Linked DNA regions of Homo sapiens: region 1 is linked to region 2. The links come from fine-mapping of genetic effects on gene expression. Tissue or cell type: whole blood. Region 2 holds a variant in brackets; the other region holds the start of a gene. All regions are shown on one strand. Distances are between the middles of the regions.

Region 1 (8,169 bases), 59 kb after region 2:
TGAGGTTCCAGAGAGGGCAGGAGAAGAGGAGATTCTTATAGGGGGATTAGCATTCCTCTCCCCTCCTCTCCCCTCCCCTCTCCTCCCTTCCCCTCCCCTTCCCTAAGACAGGGTCTCACTCTGCTGCTCAGGCGAGAGTGTACTGGCATGATCTTGGTTCACTACAGCCTAGACTTCCCAGGTTCAAGGGATCTTCCGACCCCAGACTCCCAAGTAGCTGGAACTACAGTTGTGCACCACCACCATACCTGGCTAATTTTTTTTTTTTTTTGGTAGACACAGTGTCTCACTAAGTTGCCCAGCCTGGTCTCCAACTTTTGGCCTCAAGCAGTCCTTCTACCTAGGCTTCCCAAATTGCTGGGATTACAGGCATGAGCCACCATGCCTGGCCTCTGCTAGTTTTGTATTCTCTAGAATTGTCTGTAGTTAGTGCTAGTGTGTCACTCATTATGCTGATCCTCTGTTATAATTAATATTTTTTATATTAAAGTTACTTTTTTTTTTTTTGGTATTGGGTCTCAGTCTGTCACCAAGGCTGGAGTGCAGAGGCATGATCTCTGCTCACAGCAACCTCCACTTCGAAGGCTCAAGCAATTCTCCATCCTCAGCCTCCCAAGTAACTGGGATTACAGGTATGTGCCAGCATGCCTGGCTAATTTTTGTGCTTTTTTTGTGCTTTTTGTAGAGACAGGGTTTTGCCGTGTTTCCCAGGCTGGTCTCAACTCCTGAGCTCAAAGTAATCCACCCGCCTTGGCCTCCCAAAGCGCTGGGATTACAGGTTTGAGCCACCGTGCGCATTCCAGTTTAAACTTTTGAGCGGTTTATATGTTTTGATTGGACTCCTAGAAATACAGAATTGATGCTAGGAAGAGTACCAGGAGATAGACACATATACATGGGATTTCAGCCTTGGTTTGGTTATCCAAGGAGCAGTGCTGAGTTTCTTGCCAATGGGACATGGGATGCTGGTGATTTCCAGGAAGTGTCCTCACAATGAGTGAAGCTACCACTTACTGTTTATTGTGATGAAATGCTAGCCAAGGCATATGCCATGCGAGTTAACGGATGCTATGCTTCACCACTGTGGCAATAAAGATGACTCTGAAGAATGGCATGGGACGGAACCTTTCAAATGCACCTGAGCAGGGGTCTCCACCACAGGGCCACAGAGCTGGTGGTGAGCAGCAAAGTGAGGGGAAAATTCGTTTGTATTTATAGCCCCTCCCCATCGCTCGCATAACCACCTGAGCGTCATGTCCTGACAGGTCCAGCTACTGCCTTCCAGTGACCTCTTTAGGCTCATCTCATGCTTCACCGTGGCCTCGCCAAACCAAGCTGCTGCGTTTCAGCAGCCTCTGCAGCAGAGGCCGAGCTCTGCGTCCTGATCATCCTGATGGCCTCTTTAGGCCCAGCTCATTTCTCACAACGGCCACCTTAGGCCCAGCTTTTCCCTTTTGGTGGCCTCTCCAGGCCGAGAAATTCCTCAAGTCGGCCTCCCCCACCGCAGTTGCTGCCTCCCGGCCTCTTCTCCAGTCCCAGTCCTCTCTCGCAGCTGTGTCTACAGGCCCAGCTCCTGCCTCCAAAGAGCCTCTTTTGACTCGGCTCCTACCCAGCTCCTGGCAGCCTTTGTAGGCCTGAAATCTCTTCCAGTCCAGCACTCCATACCCAGTCTCCCCTCACAGCGGCCTTCCCAGGCCCAGCTTTTGCCTCACAGCGGCCTTCCCCGGCCATTTTCTAGCCGGCCTCGCGGTAGCCTCAACAAGCCCAGCTCCCGCCTCACACTGGCCTCTCTAGGCCCAGCTCAGGCGTCACAGTGGCGTCTCCAGGCCCAGCTCCCGCCCACCCCAACAGCGTCTCGCGGCTCAAGGCGTTCTCAAGATGGCCCTTCCAGGCCAAGTTCCTGCCTCCCGCCGATGGCCCGTGTGGGCCCAAAGCGTCCTGAAGTCGGCCTCGCCAGGCCCAGCTCCTGCCTGTCGTAGGCGCCTAGAGGCATGGCCTCTGCCTCCTCACAGTGGACCCCCCCAGACCCAGCTCTTGCTTCAGCATGGCCACCTCAGGCCAAGCTCCTGCCTTGCCTGTTGGCAGCCTCCACAGGCCCAGCTCTTGCCTCTCGCCATCCTCTCCAGGTCCAGAACTGTTTCCAGCCGGCCTCTCCAGGCCCAGCTCTCCCTCCCGGCTGTGGCTGCCGGCCCAGCTCCTGCCTCGCAACAGGCACGTTCGGCCCAACTCCTGCCCAGCTCATGGCAGCATTTGTAGGCCCCAGGCTCCTCTAAGTCAGGCCTTCCAGGCCCTGCCTTCAGCTCCCTGGCGGCCTGGAGAGGCCCAGCTCCTGCCTGACAGCGGCCTCTCCGGGCCCAGCTCTTGTCTCGCGTCGGCCTCCCCGGGACACATTTCCCCCTGCCTCGCGGCAGCCCCGAAAGACCCAGCTCCTGCCTCCTGATGGCCTCTTTAGGCTCATCTCATGCCTCACTGCAGCCTCCCCCAGGCCAGGCTCCTGCCTTTCGGCGGCTTCCGCAGGTCCGGCTCCTGCGTCCTGACGGCCTCTTTAGGCCCGGCTCGTCCCTCACAATGGCCTCTTTCAAAGGCCCAGCTTTTCCTTCGTGGCGGCCTCTCCAGGCCCAAATTGGCAAGCCTCCCCTGTCCTGGTGGCTGTCTCCCGGCCTACTCTCCAGGCCCAGCACACTCTCGCGGCTGTACCTCCAGGCCCAGCCCCTGCCTGCAGACAGCCGCTTTTGACTCGGTTCGTGCCCAGCTCCTGGCGGCCTTTGTAGGCCCGAAACCTCCTCCAGCACAGCTCTTCAGGCCCACCTGTGGCCTCGCAGCGGCCTTCCCAGGCCCAGCTCTTGCCTCACGGCGGCCTTCCCCGGCTGTATTCCTGCCAGCCTCTCGGCGGCCTCAAAAAGCCCGGCGCCTGCCTCACACTGGGGTCTCTAGGCCCAGCTCACGCCTGACGGTGGTCTCTCAAGGCCCAGCTCCCGCCCACCCCGACCGGCCCAAGGCTTTCTCAAGTTGGCCCATCCAGGGCCCAATTCCTGCCCTCCGCTGATGGCCTGTGCAGACCCAAAGTATCCTGAAGTCGGCCTCGCCGGGCCTAGCTCCTGCCTGTCATAGGCCCCTAGAAGCACGGCCTCTGCCTTCTAAAAGTGGAACCCCCCAGTCCCAGCTGTTGCCTCAGCGTGGCCACATCAGCCGAAGCTCCTGCCCTGCCTGTTGGCAGCCTCCATGGGCCAAGCTCTTGCCTCTCACCATCCTCTCCAGGCCCAGTACTGTTTCCAGCCGGCCTCTCCAGGCCCAACTCTCCCTCTCAGCTGTGCCTGCCGGCCCAGCTCCTACCTCGCAAAAGCCACGTTCGGCCCAGCTCCTGCCCAGCTCCTGGCAGCCTTTGTAAACCCCAGGATCCTCTAAGTCAGGCCTTTCAGGCCCTGCCTTTGGCTCCCCGGTGGCATGGAGAGGCCCAGCTCCTGCCTGACAGCGGCCTCTCCAGGCCCAGCTCTTGCCTCACGTTGGCCTCCCTGGGCCACGTTTCCGCCTGCCTCGCGGCAGCCCCGACAATCCCGGCTCCTGCCTCCCGATGGCATCTTTAGGCTCATCTCGTGCCTCACCACGGCCTGCACCAGGCCACACTCCTGCCTTTCGGTGGCCTCCGCGGGCCTGACTCCTGCGTCCCAATGGCCTCTTTAGGCCCGGCTCGTGCCTCGCCGCGGCCTCCTGAGGCCCACCTTTGCCCTTCTGGCAGCCTCTCCAGGCCCAGGACTTCCTCAAGTCGGCCTCTGCCAGCCCAGTGGCCGCCTCCCGGCCTCCTCTCCGGGCCCAGCTCCTTGCTCGTGGCTGCGCCCGCGGGCCCAGCTCCTGCCTCTGAACATCCTCCTGTGACTCGGCTCCTGCCCAGCTCCCAGCGGCCTCCGTAGACCCGAAGCCTCCTCCGGTCCAGCTCTCCAGGCCTGCCTCCTGCCTCGTGGCGGCCTTCCCCGGCCATGCTCGTGCCGGCTTCCCGGCAGCCTCCACGAGCCCGGCTCCTGCCTCACGCGGGCCCCTCCAGGCCCAGCTCGTGCCTCGCGGCGGCCTCTCCAGGCCCGGCTCCCGCCCAGCCCGACGGCGTCTCCCAGCCCAAGGCTCCCTTCCTCAACGTCGGCCCCTCTGGGCCCAGCTCCTGCCTCCCGCTGATGGCCTGTGCGGGCCCACCCGAGGCGGCCCGAAGTCGGCCTCGCCAGGCCCAGCTCCTGCCTGGCGTAGGCCCCTGGGGGCACGGCCTCTGCCCCACAGTGGCCCCTCCGGGCCCAGCTCGTGCCTCGGCTTGGCCGCCTCAGGCCCAGCTCCTGCCTGTGGGCGGCCTCTCTCCAGACCCGGCTCTCGCCTCCCGGCATCCTCTCCAGGCCCAGAGCTGTTTCCAGTTGCTAGACCATTTTTGTGCCTGCCTCGTTGCAGCATCTCCAAGCCCAGCTTTTGCTTTTCTGCAGTTTCTTGAGGCCGAACTCCATTTTTCGAATGGCTTATTTAGGCCCAGCTCTTGCGTTTGCATTGTCCCTTCAGGCCCAGAACTTTCTCACGTCATCGTCACCAGGCCTAGCTTCTGCATCTGGTCAGCCTTTTAAGGCCCAGCTTTTGCCTCATAAACTCAGCTCCTGTTTAATGGCGGCCTCCCAGGTCCCACCTTCTGCCTTCCTGTGTCCACTCCAGGCCCAGCTACTGCCTTGGTGCTCTTTTTAAGTCAATAATTTTTTCCAGTCGACCTCTCCAGGCCCAACTTGTACCTCTGAGTGTCCTCTAGGATCTCAGCTTCTGCCTAACAATGACCTCTTTAGACTCAGCTCATTTTCACTGCTACATCTTCAAGCCATTCTCCTGCCTCTTGGCAACCTCTAGTGGCCCAGCTTCTGCCTCACAGCAGCCTCTCCATGCATGCCTAGCTCCTGCCTCTTTAGGGAACTTACAGGCCTAAAACTTTCTTAATTTGGGCTTCTCAGGCCCAGCTCCTGCCTTCTGTTGGCCTCTACAGGCCTGGCATCATCCTTTCAACAGCCTCTTTAGGCCCGGCCTCTCCAGGACCAAAACATCCTTAAGTCAACCTCACCAGGCCCGGCTCCTGTCTCCTTGCGGCCTCCAGAGGCCGAGCTTTTGCCTGCCAATGGCCTCTCTAGCCCCAGCTTTTGCCTGCCAATGGCCTCTCTAGCCCCAGCTTCTGCCTTTCATCGGTCTCTCCAGGCTTAGCTCCTTTCTCTTCACGGCCTCTGCAGGCCTAAAACTTCCTCAATTTGGCATCTCCAGGCCCAGCTCCTGCCTCCAGGCCGCCTCTGCAGGCCTATCTCAAGCCTTACAACAGCCTCTTTACCCCCAGCTCCTTTCTCCGACTTGTCTCTCCAGGCCTAGAACTTCCTCATGTTTACCTCACCAGGCCCACCTCCTGCCTTCCAGTAGCGTCTACAAGTTTGGCTCCTGCCTCCCATGGATCTCTCCAGGCCCCAAACTTTCTCAAGTCAACCTCACCAGGCCCGGCTTCTCCCTTTCATCAGCCTTCCAAAGGCCAGCTTTTGCTTCATGTCTGCCTTCCGAGTCCCAGCTCCTGTTTTATGGCAGCCTCCTGAGGCCCAGCTCCTGCCTCCTAGTGGCCTCTTTTGGCCCAACTCTTTCCTCACCAGGGCCTTCCAGACCACGTTCCTGCCTTTTAGCAGCCACTACAGGCCCAGCTTTGCGTCCTTTCAAGAGTCCTGCCTCACAGTGGCCTCCCAAGGGCAACTTTCTGCCTCATGTCAGCCTCTTGTGCCCTGGTCCTGCTTCCTGGTAGACTCTGCAGGCCCTGCTCCTGCCTTACGTTGCCCCTTTTATAAAGATCCAGTTCCTGCCTCCTGGCTGCCTCTATGAGCCCAAATCCTGCCTAACAACAACCTGTTTTTGCCCAGCTCCTGCTTCCTGGCAGCCTCCTTAGGCCAAAAATTTCCTTCAGTTGACCTCTCCAGGCCCAGCTCCTGCCTCTCAGCACCCTCTTTAGGCCCAGCTCCTGCCTTAATAAATTTGAATAAATTATTGTTATGTGATTATTATGTGAAACATTTTTTCTTCAAAAGGTAATGAAAATTGAGGTAAAGTATAAAAGTCTAGCATATAAATTCCTCTATTGTCACCCTTCGTATTAGTCACAGTTCTCTAAAGGAGCAGAACTGTTAGGATAGATGTATATATATAAGGGAGTTTCTTAAGGGGTATTAACTCACAGGATCACAAGGTTCCACAATAGGCTGTCTGCAAGCTGAGGAGCAAGGAAGCCATTCTGAGTCCCAAACCTGAAGAACTTGGAGTCCGATGTTCTAGGGCAGGAACCATCCAGCATGGGAGAAAGATGTAGGCTCGGAGGCTAAGCCAGTCTCACCTCTTTATGTTCCTCTGCCTCATTTTTATTTTTGCCACACTGGCAGCTGATTAGATTGTGCCCACCTAGTTTAAGGGCGGGTCTGCCTTTCCCAGCCCCCTGACTCAAATGTTAATCTCCTTTGGCAACACCCTCACATACACACCCAGGAACAATACTTTGCATCCTTCAGTCCAATAGAGTTGACAGTCAATATTAACCATCACAAGTTCACCCCTTGTCAACTTTAACCCATACACATCTTCTGAAATTATACATAATCTTCAAATAAAGATAATAATAAGGTCATAATTGTGCCTAAGATAATAATAAAAGTATTCTTCATACAACTGGAAATGCACCAATCCTGAACCCAAATGCCCTTATATAAAACTAACACTTAGATGCTTATATGAAGTCAATATAAGTTATTCACACAATAAAGGAAAAAGGAAATGAAATATTCTTAGTACAAGCTTATATATGCACAAACATGTTTTTAACAAAAGGAGGAAATACTCATGACAATTACAGTCCTCGTTTCTGTAGCTGGTCACATGGTCATAGCTGGTATTGATGACTGCCTTTTTCTATTACCCATTCTGTATTCTTTTTGCCTTCAGAAAGCATCTCAGCAGGTTTTTTCCTGGAGTGACCCAAGCCTTCATTCCTGAAGGGTCTGGGCCATTTGTAGTCCTGCCTGGGTTGGGCTGTTATAGTTTCCCATTGACCTTAATCACAGGGCATCTCCTGTATTCCATGCATATTCTTCCTTACCTCCATTGTGGAGTAGTAGACTGATTTCATCTTGATAGTCTGGGTCAATCATCCCAGAAGGTTGTAACTCCCTTCTTAGCCTGTTGATTTAAAAGTGGCAGGACCCCAAAGTGTCCAGGTGGCAATCGTAACTTCCAGTTTAATGGAATCGTTGTGTCTCCTGGTGGCAGCTTTCTTCCCTCTGGATCTAAGACCTCTAGACCAGCAGAATGTAATGTTGTGGGAACAGGTAGCCAAAATTTTCTAGTGGATCACTAGGGGTGATGGTGAGTGATGCCACTTCCACTTCCACCCCTTGATTCCTGGACCTGTGAATCCTGGCTATGGGATAAACAATGCCATATATTGGATGCTGATTCAGAGCAGACATGGCCTTCTGGAGAAATTTGCCCCAGCCCCGCAGAGTATTATCACCTAGTTGGCATTGTAATTGTGACTTCAAAAGGCCATTCCACCATTCTATCAATCCAGCTGCTTCGGGATGGTGGGGAACATGGTGGGATCAGTGAATTCCAAGAGCATGAGCCCACTGTCACACTAGCTGTAAAGTGAGTGCCTTGGTCAGAGGCAATGCTGTGTGGAATACCATGACGGTGGATAAGGCATTCCGTGAATCCACAGATGGTAGTCTTAGCAGAAGCATTGCGTGTAGGATAGGCAAACTCATATCTGGAGTGTCCATTCCAGGGAGGAGAAACCTCTGCCCTTTCCATGATGGAAGAAGTCCAATATAATCAATCTGCCACCATGTAGCTGTGTGATCACCCAAGGAATGATGCCATATCAAGGGCTCAGTGTTGGGCACTGCTGCTGGAAAATGGGGCACTCAGCAGTGGCTGTAGCCAGGTCTGCCTTGGTGAGTGAAAGTCCATGTTGCTGAGAAAGTCTATCCCTGCCACCATGGCCACTTTGTTTATGAGCCCATTGGGCGATGGCAGTGGTGACTGGGGAAAAGGCTGAGTGGTGTCTACAGAATGAGGCACCCTGTCCACTTGATTATTAAAATCCTCCTCCGCTGAGGTCACCCTTTGGTGAGCACTCACATGAGA
Region 2 (8,186 bases):
TGGCACAATCTCAGCTCACTGCAACCTCTGCCTCCTGGGTTCAAGCGATTCTCCTGCCTCAGCCTCCCGAGTAGCTGGGATTACAGGTGCCTGCCACCACGCCCAGCTAATTTTTTGTATTTTTAGTAGAGACGGTGTTTCACCATGTTGGTCAGGCTGGTCTCAAACTCCTGAACTCAGGTGATCCACCCACCTCAGACTCCCAAAGGGCTGGGATTACAGGTATAAGCCACTGCACCTGGCCTTTATTTTCATTTAATGAGAACCTCAGCCAGGCGCAGTGGCTCAGCCCTGTTATCCCAGCCTTTTGGGAGGCCAAGGCAGGAGGATCACTTGAGGCCAGGAGTTCAAGACCAATCTGAACAACATAGTGAGACCTTGGTCTCTGTTAAAAAAAAAAAAAAAATAGAGACGACCTCATTGAGGGCATACAGGAAATAAAACTAAGATATATTTTGGCTTTGTAAATCAGTGTTTTCACATACGGAATCGGCTGAACCTGGTAGGTGGAGGTTGGAGCGAAGTTGTGCTACTGCACTCCAGCCTGGGCAACAGGGTGAGATTCCGTCTCAAAAAAACAAACAAAAAAAATCCAGGTGAGAACACAGGACAATTTGTTTAAAATAGTCATCACATGAGTTAGCACATAGAAAAAAACATACAAAGGGTAGATACTAGGAATACTAGTGGTTGCCTGAGGAAGATGTGATTGCAGCTTTCCTTCATGTGTTACATAGTTTTTGGTATGTTTTGTTTTAAGAGACAGGGTCTTGCTCTGTTGCCCAGTGCAGTGGTGCAATCACAGCCCACTGCAGCCTCAACCTCTTGGGCTCAAGCAATTCTCCCGAATAGCTGGGACTACAGGTATATACCACCAAATCCAGTTAATTGTTTTATTTTTTGTAGAGATGGGGTCTTGCTATGCTGCCCAGGCTGGTTGTAAACTCCTGGGATCAAGCGATCCACCTGCCTCAGTCTCCTCAGTAGCTGGAACTAGAGGCGTGCACCACCACGGCTGGCTACTTTTTAAAATTTTTTGTAGAGAAAGGGTTTCGCCATGTTGCCCAAGCTGGTCTCGAATTCCTGGGCTCGAGTGATCCTCCCACATTGGCCTCCCAAAGTGCTAGGATTACAGACATGAGCCACTGCACCTGCTCCATGTGTTACACAGTTCTCTATCATTTAACTGTTTCATATCATACATGTGTAAACAGAAAAAGCACACACATGCAAAATCCTCTAATGTTTGCATTTTCTGTAGAGATGGAGTCTCACTATGTTGCCCAGGCTGATCTTAAACTGCTGGACTCAAGTGATCTGCCCACCTCGGCCTCCCAAAGTGTTGGGATTACAGGTATGAGCCACTGTGCCTGGCCCTAAGTATTTATTTTAAGCCACTAGGTCTGGAGTAATTTGTTACATAGCAGCAGATAAATAATACACATATTTTCTATAGTGATCACATTTATAATTCAAATTGAGTTTAAAAGGCTGGGAGCAGTGGCTCATGCCTGTAATCCTAGCACTTTAGGAGCTGTGTCATCTTTGGAAAGGTACTTGAACTCTCTGTGCCTTAGAATCCGTTTTCTAAAATGTGGGCGGGGCACAGTGGCTCATGCCTGTAATCCCAGCACTTTGGGAGGCCGAGTCGGGTGGATCATCTGAGGTCAGGAGTTCAAGACCAGCCTGGTCAACAAAGTGAAACCTGGTCTCTAGTAAAAACACAAAAATTAGCTGGGTGTGGTAGTGGGCACCTGTAATCCCAGCTACTGGGGAGGCTGAGGTTGGAGAATTGCTTGAACCCAGGAGGCAGAGGTTGCAGTGAGCCATGATCACGCCACTGCACTCCAGCCTGGATGACAGAGCAAGAATCTGTCTCGAAAACAAACAACAAAAAAGTGGATAGCAGCATCTACCTGGAAGAATTGTTGTGGGATCAACAGTGCAGAGAATCTAGCAAGTATAAAAGAAAAAAAAGTATCAGGACCCTCTATAAATTTATCATGCCAAGAGGGAAGTTACACCCTGACCGAGTCACATAGCATGTTTGTAACTTCTGCTTCTTAAATTATAATTTATTCCTTCCTTATTATTTTCATTCTGCAAATGACTATGAGAGACCAGAGACTAGTCGTCCTCTCCTTACAATCACTTATCTTTGTTACAGATTAACTGCCTCCTTTATTGTTCTGTACCTAACTCACACCAGATGGCACAAAAGACCCCATGACTTACATCTTCAGTGTAGAAGGTAAAATACACCTTTCCCGGAAAAAAGACCACCTCGTCTGGGTGCAGTCGCTCATGCCTGTAATCCCAGTACTTTGGGAGGCCGAAGTGAGAGGACTGCTTATGCCCAGGAATTTGAGACTGGCCTGGGCAATGTGGTGAAACCCTGTCTCTACAAAAAATACAAAAATTAGTCAGGTGTGTTGGTGCACGCCTGTAGTCCCAGCTCCTAGGGATGCCCAGGTGGGAGGATCGCTTGAGCCAGGGAGGCTGAGGCTGTAATGAGTTGCGATTGCACTACTGCACTCCAGCCTGGGTGACAGAGTGAAAGAAAGACCACCTGGACCAATCAGATTGTTTTAACTATGTATTAAGCCTTAAACGGAGAGATGCTGAAATTCTGCTAAGCTTCCCTAAACTTTGTCTATGCAAGTGATCCCAAACTTCTAAGCCTTGGAACACTGTCTTCCACTCTTGGGTATCTGTGCTTCCCAGGTGGCCCTCCTTAAACTCTGCATGAATAAACTCCCTTTAGATTCTGACCCTGTTGATTATTTGAGGTTGACACACTGTGCAATATACATCAGAATACCAATTTTTTTTTTTTTTAGACGGAGTCTCTCTCTCTGTCGCCCAGGCTGGAGTGCAGTGGCGCGATCTCGCCTCACTGCAACCTCCGCCTCCCGGGTTCAAGCAATTCTCTGCCTCTGCCTCAGTCTCCCAAGTAGCTGGTATTACAGGTGCCCGCTACCACGCCAGGCTAATTTTTGTATTTTTGGTAGAGACGGGGTTTCACCATGCTAGCCAGGATGGTCTTGAATTCCTGACCTCGTGATCCACCCGCCTCGGCCTCCCAAAGTGCTGGATTACAGGCGTGAACCACTGCGCCCGGCCCGATCGCTTATATTTTTAAAAAGATGTTTTCTGCGTTTCCTAGCCCCTTGTACCCCCGCTACAAAGTTCCAAAGGCTTTAATGTTGTTGCAACGGCCATCAGCTGTCAAGATGGGGGGTTCAGCTCCCTAAAGCGGGGCAGCCTCAGAGGGAGCCGAGCCTGCCCAGGATGAGCGGCGCCGGGCGGCGGGGGACGCTGCGGGGTCCCCGGTCCCTGGCTGGAGGAGGTGTTGGGGGGCGCACGTACCCAGCCTCAGGTGAGGCGAGTGTGCGGCAACGGCTGCAGCCGGAGCTAGCCGGCTTGCAGTGGCCATTAAGGAGCTTCTGCCCGACCTTCTGTTTGTGCCCGCCAGGCGACAACCGCTTGGTGTGCAGCGCCTGCTCGCTCAGCGTCAGGCCCTTGCTGCGCCCTACGCTGCAGGCTGGGAAGTCGCGCCGGTAGTAGTAGCACAGGCAGTGGGAAAGCTCCTCCTTGTAGCTTACTGGTGTTGGCCGCCGGGTCGGAGCCTGCGAACACTGACCGGCCGGCTGTGGCCACGCGTCTGCGCATGCGCGCTTCTGGACGACCCGGCAGCCGCTCCTCGAGTTCCGATTGGTTCCACATGAGGGGCGTGGCTCTCTGTCGTCACTGGGGAGCGCCTTCGCTGACGTCACAGGCGCGGGCCCTCGGCGACGCAATAGCGCCAGGCCTTCCGCGTCGTCAGAGTGACGGTACAGTGCCTGGAGCTGGGCTGTTTTGTCTTCAGAGTGGTGCCTGGTAACCGCGACTTCCCCGCCATGTTCTGTGTGTTGCTGGCTGGAGAAGGGTGGTTGACAAACTCTGACCCAGCACGGTGTTTCTGTGGGTCAAAACTAGAAAACTATATCCGGGCGCCGAGGTGAAAGGATCCCTTCAGGCCAGGAGTTAAAGAGCAGCCTAGGCAACGTGGCGCGACCCCATCTCTGTAGTCCCACCTCAGCTTCCCAGATA[C/T]TTGAACCCCAAAGTTCAAGGCTGCAGTGAGCTATGATCCCATCACAGCACTCCAGCCTGCGAGACTGAGGTAAACCCTGTCTAAAAAAGTAAAAAAACTATCCAAGTGTGCAACAGGGAGGGACTGCTTAAAGAAAACAGAATTGTATGTTCAAATACTTTTAACAAGTGCAAAATGTATAGGCTGAAATAAATAGAGCTGGCCGAGCGCGTTTGCTCACGCCTGTAATGCCAACATTTTCGGTGCCCTAGGCAGGCCATCACTTGAAGTCAGGAACTCGAGGCCAGCCTGGCCAACATGGTGAAACCCCATGTCTACTAAAAATATAAAAATTAGGCCGGGCACCTTGCATCGTTTCAGGGGGCTGACACCTCCCTAAGGGCCCGGTAATTGAATCCCTCGGATTTGAGAGTGAGAAACCTTGGCTCAGTTCTTCCCAGGGGGATCAGCCCAGGGGTAAGCGAGGAGAGGCCAGAAAGCAGGACCCATGAGAAGGACCCCCTCCTGGAGTTTGAGGCCCATTCCTTCCTGCCCCTGCGTCTCCTCTTTCCAGGACTCCTCCCTGCTCTGCCGCACTCCTGGGGCCATGGCCATGGGGGGCTGCATTTGGGTACAGGCCCCAGCGGCAACCCTGGGCCCAAAATGGGCGGGCTCACCTGGAGGGGATCAGAGTAACATGGCAAGAAGCAGGAAAAGCCGCGCTGGAACCGCACCTCTCTGCCCCCTGATGTCAGTGGGTGCACTCTTCCCTCACCTCACTCAGGCAGCGGCATGAGTTCCATGGGAGCACTGTCCTGCTCCCTCTGCTGCCTCTTTTTAGTCTTGGGGCTACCATAACACTTTCCCTTCCCCAGCCCTGCCAACCTGGTGGCACATTGGGCTTCCCTCTTACACGGTCCTGGGGACAGGCCCGTCTTGTATCATACCTGCAGCGAGACCCTTTTTTTCTCCAGGGCCTGGGGAGCAGCCAGGCTTCCTGAGCCAAATACAGATCTGAACCATACCAAGCTGGGATTGGGGTACACACTCTCCTCCTCTGAAAACTAGCTAGGGGTTCGAACTTGGTGAGAGGGAGAGTGTGACAGAGCCAGACCAGACAAGGACTGATCACCTGGAAAAACCTGCCATCAAAGACCTTGACGAGTGCTGGGTGCGGTGGCTCACGCCTGTAATCCCAGCACTTTGGGAGGCTGAGAGAGGTGGATCACTTGAGGCCAGGAGTTCAAGTCCAGCCTGGGCAACATGGCAAAACCATTATCTCTACTAAAAAAATTAGCTAGGTATGCTACGCTCCTATAATCCCTGCTATTCGGGAGGCTGAGGCAGGAGAATCGTTTGAACTGGAGAGGTAGAGGTTGAAGTGAGCCAAGATCGTGGCACTGTACTCCAGCCTGGGAGACAGAGTGAAACTGTGTCTCAAAAAAAAGAAAAAAGAAAATGGCTTTGGCAGAGGGGCTGGCCTGGCAGTGCCTTACCTTGGGTTTCTCCTGGGTAGGCCTCTGCCATGAGGAGGCACTTCCTTCTGCCTGTCCATGGCCCACAGCAAAGGAATGTCTGCTTCTGGGGGTTGGGTGGGGGACTGCTGGCAGAACTGGAAACCTTCTTCAGGTGGGTTTTTTTTTTTTTTTTTTTTTTGAGACGGAGTCTCACTCTGTCACCCAGGCTGGAGGGCAGTGGCACAATCTCAGCTCACTGCAACCTTCACCCCCTCCCCGCCCCCCTGCCGTGTTTAAGTGATTCCCATGTCTCAGCTTCCTGAGTAGCTGAGATTGCAGGCATGCGCCACCACACCTGTCTAATTTTTGTAGAGACGGGGTTTCACCATGTTGGCCAGGCTGGTCTGGAACTCCTGATCTGAAGTGATCTGCCCACCTCGGCTTCCCAAAGTGCTGGGATTACAGGCGTGAGCCACTGCGCCTGGCCCCTTCAGGTGGGTATTGAGGCTTCACTACAATACTAGTTCCCCGTTGCTGCCGCAATAAATTACCACACACTTAGTGGCTTAAAACAGCACAGAGGTATTCCTTTACATTTCTGAAGGCCAGAATTCTAAAGTCAGTCCCACTGAGTCAACGTGGGAGCAGGGTCAGTGCCTTCCCAGGCTCTGCGGGAGAATCTGTTTCCTGGCCCTGGAGGCGGCCTGTACTCCTCAGCTTGTGCTGCCCTTCTCGAATGACTCGCGTTTCCTGCTTTCATCACTACACCTCCCACCGCTCTCCATCACCTGCTCTGCTCTTATAAGGATCCAGGTGAGTACATAAACCCTGTGGGGACAAGCTGGCCAAAGACTCTTAACTTCATTATACTTGCAAAGCCCCTTTTGCCATATAAGGTCATGTTCACCGGTTCCAGGGATTATGATGTGGGCATCTTGGGGGCATCAGCCTACTACAGCTAGGCTGCAAAACTATTACACCCTCCTGGTGTTTCAATGATTGGGAGAAAAAGGGTTGGGATTTTTTGCTTTGGGGTCCCTGTTAAACTTGTATCTGTAAGGTCTGGGGTCTCTCTTAACCTTATGTTTTTGTTTTTTCTTTTTTGAGACAGAGTCTTGTTCTGTCATCCAGGCTGGCAGTGGCGCAGTCTCAGCCCACTGCAACATCCACCTCCTGGGTTCAAGGAATTCTCCTGCCTTAGCCTCCCGAGTAGCTGAGACTACCGGCGCCTGCCACTAAGCCTGGCTAGGTTTTGTATTTTTGGTAGAGACGGGGTGGGACTGGGGGGTGGGGGAGGGGAGGGGGTTTTCCACTGTATTGCCCTTAGCTCAAAGCGGTCTGCCCAGCCTCTGCTCCTGAAATGCTAGGATTACAGGCCTGCACCACCACCACTGTAAAATATTACTTCCATACAGCTGAGACATGTTTTAGGAAGTTTGCTAAAAGACCCCTGGAGACCTCCTCATTGTGGCCTCCCTGTTGTCATGTTTAATTTGATTGATCTTTTCTGCACTCCTGCTTTTCATAAATTAAAAGGCTGAAAAGAGGTACTAAACTTTAAAACTTCTCTTATAGTCTCCCATTAAACTAATTCTAAGAACCACCAAAAAGGGGAACAATTTTTTTGAAAGCAGTAAAATGATATGATCTGTTAGGATGTAAAATACAGGAAATAAGTCATTATATGTTATTGCTGCTGTGGTATAGGGATGTATTATTGAGAATCAACTTCTGGTCAGTTTTCAGAAAAATGGAATAGTCGTATCACTGATCTACGTAAACAAGTTGAAGAATTGTCTGAAAGAAAATACAGTGTGTCTAAACTGGAAAAGTCCTGTAATAGTTTGTTCATGAGCATTTACACAATGGAGTTGCTGTTTCATCATGGGGGTACTGTGGACAAACCCAGGGCTGCTGGTGAGTCATGCCATCCTTACACGTCTTTCCTTGTAAGGTACTTTGTAGTGTCTGTCTAAATATTAGAAAGTTTCTTTGTTTCTAGATTACTTGAAAGCTAAGGAAAAGTTGTAGTTCTCTAATTATCAATTAGCATTTCTTTTATACTTTCAGTGTGGATATTTGGGATTTCTTTATATATTTATTGCAAAGCCCTAGATCTTAGGGATTTGACTGAAAAAAATATATATATATGCGTGTATATACACACGCGTATATATATACGCGCGTATATACACACGTGTGTATATACGCGTATATATATACACATGTGTATATATATATGTGTGTGTGTATATATATATATATATATATATATATATTTTTTTTTTTTTTTTTTTTTTTTTTTTTTCTTTTTGAGATGGAGTCTCGCCCTGTCACCGCGGCTGGAGTGCAGTGGCATGATCTCAGTTCACTGCAGCCTCCGTCTGCCAGGTTCAAGCAATTCTCTGCCTCAGCCTACCGAGCAGGTGGGATTACAGGCGCCTGCCACCATGCCCCACTAATTTTTGTATTTTTAGGTGAGCCAAGGTTTCACGATCTTGGCCAGGCTGGTCTTAAACTCTAGACATTGTGACCCACCCACCTCTGCCTCCCAAAGTGCTGGGATTATAGGCGTGAGCCACCGTGCCTGGCCAAATAATATTTTTTTAAACTAATTGTTTCTCTCAATCTGCTATGTTAAATTCGTTATTCGGCTG

The links. PIP is the estimated chance that this variant, and not a neighbour inherited with it, causes the effect.
Region 1: LINC02604 starts here. The variant in region 2 is fine-mapped to the expression of LINC02604 in whole blood (TOPMed, PIP above 0.99).

Annotation. Positions count from the first base shown.
Region 1 is chr7:66,900,266-66,908,434 of GRCh38, forward strand. LINC02604 (long intergenic non-protein coding RNA 2604) reads left to right here and starts at 3,855. Exons shown (of 1, transcript NR_136637.1): 1 at 3,855-6,032.
Region 2 is chr7:66,841,221-66,849,406 of GRCh38, forward strand. It overlaps the pseudogene GTF2IRD1P1 and the pseudogene GTF2IP23. Among named protein-coding and RNA genes, the nearest start is that of LINC02604, 59 kb to the right of the region's middle. RefSeq lists enhancers at 3,235-3,735, 3,550-3,669, 3,736-4,237, 7,698-8,186 and a silencer at 3,260-3,369. The variant C/T (reference allele first, on the strand shown) is at 4,093.